Homo sapiens: one gene and its partner. The protein of the gene in region 1 interacts with the protein of each later gene in a biochemical or structural test. Each region holds a gene or a part of one and is shown on either strand. Other genes may lie near its edges.

Region 1 (4,104 bases):
CTGCCTCCTGAGTTCAATCGATTTCCGGCTAATTTTTATATTTTTAGTAGAGACAGGGTTTCACCATGTTGGCCAGGCTGGTCTCAAACTCCTGACCTCAAGTAATCCACCTGCCTGGGCTTCCCAAAGTGCTGGGATTACAGGTATGAGCCACTGCGCCCAACTGGCATTTACTTTTTAATTTTTTGAGACTGAGTCTTGCTTTATCACCCATTCTAGAGTGCAGTGTCATGATCAGAGCTCATGGGAGCCTCAAACGCCTGGGCTCCAGCGATCCTCCTGCCCTGGCCTCCCAGTGTGGTAGGATTACAGAGTGAGGCCTTGTGTCTGGCCTCGTTGGCATTTCTGTTCAGAGTTTTCCCTCCCTGCTCCTCCCTGTCCATGTCAACTGTCAAAATAGACTCAAGGAATTTTTAATATTCAATGTGTTACAATCTATTACCATTATCCTTTGGAATGCTTAATGTGTTTCACCTCTGGTTGGCGGGAGACCCTTTAAGCCAGCTCCTGTGACAACATGTCATGACATGAGCATGCTCTAGTTTCTGGCACAACACAGTTCACTTATACTTTCCCAGTCTCAGACTTGAAATTAGTCATTTTTTCAAGGAGCACTGTTCCTTACAACCTCCCCCGTGGGAAGTTGTACTTAGAAATAAAAATCCAGGTACTAGGTGTGTTCCTTTCCACAGTCCTTTCAGTGGACAGACCCACAAGATATACAAAAAAACCCCGAAAGATTCTTTTTCCCCTTCCCCCATTCCATACTTATATCTCTCTTTTTCCATAGTGAGACCCTGATTTCCAGAAATATCACCATAGTTACTCATTTCATCTATCATACAATAAACGAAACAGTTTCCAATTTATGACACAAATACCACAACCAATAACATGTCTACAAAGTAAAGGTCAAGATTTCTTTGTAGGTGGTTTTTTTTTTTTTTTTTACTTAAAATATGAATATAGAATCAGGGAATGAAGGTTAAAAAGTACTTAAATTAGGCCAGGCGTGGTGGCTCACGCCTGTAATCCCAGCACTTTGGGAGGCTGAGGTGGGCGGATCATGAGGTCGGGAGATCGAAACCATCCTGGCTAACATGGTGAAACCCTGTCTCTACTAAAAATACAAAAAATTAGCCGGGCGTGGTGGCAGGCGCCTGTAGTCCCAGCTACTCAGGAAGATAAGGCAGGAGAATGGCGTGAACCCGGGCGGCAGAGCTTGCAGTGAGCCGAGATCCCACCACCGCACTCCAGCCTGGGCAACAGAGCGAGACTCTGTCTCAAAAAAAAAAAAATTTCTTACTTCTCCTGCTTTCTTATCCCAAAGGTGGCATACTATATACTGTACTATGTCTTGGTTTTTTCACTTAATAATATATCCTAACAATCATGTCATATAAGTTCACAGGGCTCCTAGTCATTCTTTTTTTTTTCTTTTTGGCTACCTAGGATTCTATTGTATGGACTGTACCATTGTTTGTTTAACCATTTTTTAAAGAATGGGCATTTGGATAGTTTCCAATGATTTCCTATTGTAAATATGCCTTTAAAAACCACCTTGTGGCTGGGCTTGGTGGCTCACACCTATAATCCCAGCTCAGGCAGGTAGATTGCCTGAGCTCAGGAGTTTGAGACCAGCCTGGGCAACACGGTGAAACCCCATCTCTATTAAAATACAAAAAATTAGCCGGTGTGGTGGCTAGCACTTGTAATCCCAGCTACTCACGAGGCTGAGACAGGAGAATTGCTTGAACCCGGAAGGCAGAGCTTACAGTGAGCTGAGATCGCGCCGCTGCACTCCAGCCTGGGCGACAGAGCGAGACTCTGTCTCAAAAAACAAACAAACAAACAAACAAAAATCACCTTGTACGTAGCTTTCCATATTTGTGAATGAGCACCTTCTGGATAAATTCCTAGACGTAGGATTGCTGGGTAAATGTGTACGTAGCTTTGTTAGATATTGCTAACTTCCCGGGCTCAATACTAACAGCCCGTCTTACCCCTGGGACTCCCAGCGCCCAGCACGGAGCCTGGGATGTTAGATGGGCTGTTAGTATTGAGGGTATACTACTTGTTTGTATTCCTGGCATTGATTTCGCAACCTAGGTAGACCTTGCCATGAGGTGTTCTAAGCTAAGACTTTCCTTGAACCTAGCTGAGAGTCCCTGACCTTCCTACCAATAAACGCACTGCTCCAAACTCCCTTTGCCACACCCCAAGTGAAGTGGCAGAAAGGCAAGAGGAAGGGGGTCTTAGTAATCCCATCCCAGTTCATCTTCCCTGAGTTGTCCCAGGGATTTGTGCATGAAACTTGGGAAACTAGAGCAGAGGTGAGTAATGAGGCTGAGGATCTTAGGCAGAGAGGAACTGGGGTGAGGAAAGGTAGAAATGGGGGCTCTGCCCCTTGGCACCTATGTTCTCAATCCTTTCCTTTCCTTTGGCCTCTCCACTATCCTTCACACATAGACTGCCTCTCAAGCCTCTTCCCTGACCCAGAGCCCTTGGCTCTGGTCCTCACTAGATCCTGCCTGGTTTCCCTCCTCAACTCAAGTTCATGTAGGCTGAACACAGAGGACTGGCTTAAGGTAGAGGCAGAAATAGAAAGTCCCTGTCATTTCTGTTTTAACATGTACAGAGGAAATAAGTCAGTGGAACAAGAATGGCTCACACAAGGGAAAGAGGAAAGAGGACACAAGGAGAGATACTGGCAGAGGAAGCCAAGGGCAAAACATTCCACACAAGCATTTTGGACTCCAGCCCCAGGGCCTGCTCTAATCCTATGACCTGCAGAAAAGGGGACATGAGTGGAGAAAGGTTGTCATCCCAGTCTGACAAGGCAGAGGCCTTGCTTTTCTCATCCCTCTTTCCTTCTCACCCCTACCCACCAAATACCCACTGGGATGACAGGAATCAATGCTTATCTGAGAAGCAGGGAACTGGGCTGGGTAGGGAGCCTTGTCTGAGGGGCGCCCTTCGGGGGAAGAATTCAGATTGCCTGAAGAATCCTTCCAGAGAAGGATAGTTAAGACTCTGGGTGGGGTGTTCCCCTTCAAGGTCAAACACTTGGAGCTAATCTAACCTAAGCCAAACAGTTTTTTAGGGGTTTGGCTAACGGGGTTTGTCTTGGTCATTCTGGGGACTAAGAATGAACAAGATCCTTTTCTCTCTCCAAGGCTTAGTGGGTCTGCAATGCTCTGTCCTAGTGGATAGGGCTAATCCATGTCTTTGGGTGCTGGGTCCAAGGCCAGGAGCATTGAAAAAAAAAAAAAAAAAAGAGAGAGAGAGAGAGAGAGAGAAAAGGGGTTTCGGAGTTTTTGAGAGAAGCTAAATTCTTGAATAAGGGGCAGTTTCCGGTGGAAGGCTTGACCTGCTGACAGGTGGCAGGGAGCAGCCCAGACCCCGTTCCTCTCGGGACCTCCGGTTAGTGGGAGTGGGGAAGAGTAAAGCCTCCCGATATCCTGGCCCAGGACATCCAGCCCCTACACATCACCTTACCTCTTCCAGCCCCCACACCTTCGGCAAATTCTAACTGCTCTCCTTCTGCCCCTAACTGGGCCCTCTCATTTTGATTTTCTTCTGACAAAGACCACAGCAGTGTGACAAATCTGCCTAGCCACGCCCTGTCACCTCTACCGTGGAGAGCAGGCTTTCCATTGTGCAGAGGGGAAACTGGAGGCCAGACGGCGGGTTAGGAACTCGCTGGCGTCAGGCTGATTCCAAGGCCCCCAAACTGCCCGTGCTTCTCTCAACATGCCTTGACCCAGCGCTCTAACATCCCAGGCTCCGTGCTGGGCGCTGGGAGTCCCAGGGGTAAGACGGGCTGTGCTCCTTTGACTTGACCTTGAATCTAGAGACTTGGTGGTAAATGGAAGGGAGAAGGGTCTGAGGCTCGGCACAACCTGGGAGGCAGGAAGCCTCCGTTCGCCGCTCGGTTCGCATTCTCCACGGAGTTCTCAGACTACAGCAGAGCCCGGGAGGGTGGAGCCCAGCGGCGGAGAGGCTGGCGGGGCGGGGTCGCAGAGGCCGCGGAGAGCACAGGGGCCGCAGGGTTGCGCAGTCAATCCTGCCCCGAGCCCCGGGGGAAGGGCTGAGACTGCGGGA
Region 2 (3,500 bases), on another chromosome or scaffold:
CACTTCTCCAAAAAAGCCCCCACAGCTCCCTCCAACAGCACAGCCCTACTCCCACCTCCACCCGAATCAGGTTCCTCCTGCTTTAGCAGCTCAGTAAGCCTGTTCTCTCCTACAGAGCCCCATGCCAGCGTGTGATGATGACACAGTCACTGGTTTGCAGATGCACAAGAACAACGATCAACTATGGCTTTGCCCATCATGGTGATGAGAACAATACTGGACATCTAGAAGGTACCCAGAGGATGTCTGTAAGTAGAATGCACTAACAGACCTTTGGCGTGCCCCTCCCTTTCATACTCTGCATACACCTCAGGAACATGGCCTGTCACTCTGACCCCGGAAATGCAGCGCTCACCTACCCTTCCTTTCCAGACCCTCTGCCTATACTCTGAGCAGTCCTGGCCTACCCCTGCCAGGACACTGTCTGGGCCCCTAACCAGTTTGCCTGCCTCCCAGCACTGCCCACTTTCATGCCCTCCCACTTTGTAGGCAGTGGCTTTCCGAAAAATCCCAATGGCCACATACCCCATGCTATCTGTAGGACCAAGGCCAGAGTCTTTAGAGGGGAGGCAGGATACTGCAAGCCAGAGCCCATCCTGGCAGTCCAGCCCTGCCTCCACCTCTCCCCGACAGGCATGCTGCCACCTCCTGACTGGCCTCCCCTCAAAGCCAGACTCCAAGCTCCATGGAGCTCCTCTCCCTGCCAGGAATGCCCCTGCTTCTGCCCCAGCCATCCAAACCCTGGCCTCCTCTCCTGCATACCCCCATGTGGGAGGGTACACACACTCCCATGTCTGCAAGACCCCTATAGATCTGTCTCTCCCCACCACGGCAGAAGCCCCATAGGTACTGGGACTCCTATAGTCTAGGTCCCAGCAGAGGCCCCATACAGACTTTTAATATGAAGTCTGTATATCTGCATGCCTGTGAGGGTGCTGGCACCTGACATGCTTGTGTAAGCATCTGTGTATACTACGTGTGTGTGTGTGTGTGTGTGTGTGTGTGTGTGTGTGTGTGTGCCACGTGTCTCCATCTGGGGTCGGCATCAGCACCTCTGTGTTACTTGCCCAGATGAGAATATGCATGCCCTGTGACACTCTTCCTAGACCAGGTGGTCTGATCGATGGCCATGCCTGTGTGTTTCAGAGCAGATGGGTGCAGAGTGGGTCTGCATATCCAGGCTGATAGCCTCGAGTGTAATGTGAAGCACAGGTCCATTGTCTCTGTGACTGTGTCTGTGTAGAGTGGGTGTCTCTATGTGTCTGGGTGAGGGGGTCTGTGGGTACTATGTGCCTGGGGCCAGGCTGCTGTGTCAGTGTGTGTACTTCTGGGTGGTCTGTACTTATCAATGGGCCTATATATAGCAGACATATGTGGGACAGCACAAACATAGAGACACCTAGAGCAGAACTTAGCATGCTTCGGTATCACAGCTAATATACTGACTTTTTTTTCTTTTGACACATGGTCTCATTCTGTTACTCAGGCTGGAGTGGAGTGCAGTGGCACAATCACGGCTCACTGCAGCCTCGACCTACCCTGGCCCAAATGATCGTCCCACCTCAGCCACCCAAGTAGCTGGGATCACTGGTGTGCGCTACCACACCTGGCTAATTTTTGTATTGTTTGTAGAGATAGGTTTTCGCCATGTTGCCCAGGCTGGTCTCTAACTCCTGGCTGAAGCAGTCTGCCTTGGCCTCCCAAAGTGCTGAGATTACAGGCATGAGCCACTGCGCTCAGCCTACTTTGACTTTTTATTGAGCTCCTATTATGTCACACATTGTGCTAAAGACTTGACGTGTGTTATCTCATTTAATCCCACAACGATCCTGTGGTGTTGGTGCTATTACGACCTCATTTTATAGATGAGGAGGCTGAGGCACAGAGAAGCAAGTGATGCTGGAGCAGATGGATCCAGAGCTTAAGCTCTTAATATCGTATCTATCATATCATCTTGCTTTAGAGCAGCTTGTTCTGTGGGTACCTGTGCCTAAGTGTCAGCATGTGCAGGTGTGAGGGTAGGGGGACCCTGCTCCTCAACACACACATGCACGCACGCAAAAGCACACACATACGCACCCTTACCTTTCTTTTCAGCTGCTGGATCTCTGCCTCAGTGACCGCATGCTTGATCTGGAGCTGTTGGGCAGAGGGGCAGGCACTCAGCTCCAGCAGGGTGGGGCAGGCAGTGCCAAGGGCAGGAGACCTGCCTGCCTTTCCCTCCACCACTCCAGGGAGCCCCTCCTCCCACCTCCTTGAACTTGTGCACCAGCTTCTCGGGCTCCATGTCCACAGGGGACAGTGCATCCTCGTTCTCCGCTAGCTCAAACACCTCGATGGCCATCTCACCACCCGGGAACGTGGGGCTCAGCTCCTCATCCTCGTCAGTGGCATACTCTCCCGTCTGCGAAGGGAGACCGGAGACTGTGGGCCCACCCCACCCAGCTGCCCTCAGCCCTGATGACCAGGGCTGGGACCAGTTGCCCATGCCAGACAGAGAGCTACCCAGGAATGTGGTTCATGCCTCCCACTTCAGCCTGAGGCTGGACCAGAGACACGGTTTATGTCTTCCCCCAACAGCCTGGTAGTCCCCTGATGACAGAGGGGGTCAGTTCCTCATCAGCCTGGGTCTCTGAAGAAACAGCCTGTACTATCTTTCCCCTTCTGGATCTATCTCCCTTTCAGATTAGGTCCCCCAAGATTAGGGGCTATGCTCTCCCCGCAGACTGGGGGCTCTTTGAGAGGACTGTGTATTCCTTGTCCGGCCTCTGAAGACAAAGAGTGTGACTGGAGGACAGGGAATGGCACTGTGGGCTTTTTACTAGGGCAGGGGAAGCAGTAGAGGCAGATGACTGTAATGCTTCATCTAGCCACCAGGGGGCGACCACGCGGCCAGCCAGGCAGGGACTCCCTACCTCCTCGTCATCCTCCCCATACTGGGCGTATCTCTGCTCCATCATCTCCCGCTGCCATCGCTCCTGTTCCAAAGTCTGCTGAATTAGCTGGGCCACTTCGCTCTGCTCTCCCGGCCGCTCCCGGCCAATCATAAACCTGCAGGGGCACCGGCATCATCCGCTGCCTCTGTCCTCAGCCAGGTAATGCATCATCCTCCCTGCTGATGCTCCCCTCTCCAAACTCAGGCCCTCCCAGGGGAGGAGAGATGAGAGGGCTGAGTCCGAAGGCTGCAGTGTTAATAATGAATGGGGGAATGAGGGCCCTTATCAGGTTTCCTTCCCAAGGGAGGCAGGAAGGCCCATTCACCCCTCTGGCCAGTATTGCGGGAGGGAGAATGTCAGCCCACCTCTAGGCTGTGCTGCAGGGGACATGCACTGAGGAGGCTCTTCCCCTGCCACAGGGGAGAAAATGAGGCAGGGAAAGGTGAAGATGACCCTCCCAGCAGGGATGGGCTGCGGAGGTGTTTCTTGGGTATGCTCCAAGCCCCTGAGCTTCAGGAAGGGGCGGGATGATGGCAACTGGAGATTAGGATGGAGAGGAAATAG

What was found. Proteins that work in one complex are often made in the same cells at the same time.
Region 2: the proteins of ATP2B4 (region 1) and PPP1R9B interact in a test that uses a peptide from one of them, tested with the Homo sapiens proteins (one large-scale study listed by IntAct).

Annotation. Positions count from the first base shown.
Region 1 is NC_000001.11:203,629,543-203,633,646, reverse strand, and holds part of ATP2B4 (plasma membrane calcium-transporting ATPase 4), read right to left. Parts: intron 1-4,104. UniProt on the Homo sapiens protein: Calcium/calmodulin-regulated and magnesium-dependent enzyme that catalyzes the hydrolysis of ATP coupled with the transport of calcium out of the cell. By regulating sperm cell calcium homeostasis, may play a role in sperm motility.
Region 2 is NC_000017.11:50,137,178-50,140,677, forward strand, and holds part of PPP1R9B (neurabin-2), read right to left. Parts: intron 3,052-3,500; coding exon 2,916-3,051; intron 2,405-2,915; coding exon 2,252-2,404; intron 2,140-2,251; coding exon 2,086-2,139; intron 1-2,085. UniProt on the Homo sapiens protein: Seems to act as a scaffold protein in multiple signaling pathways. Modulates excitatory synaptic transmission and dendritic spine morphology. Binds to actin filaments (F-actin) and shows cross-linking activity. Binds along the sides of the F-actin.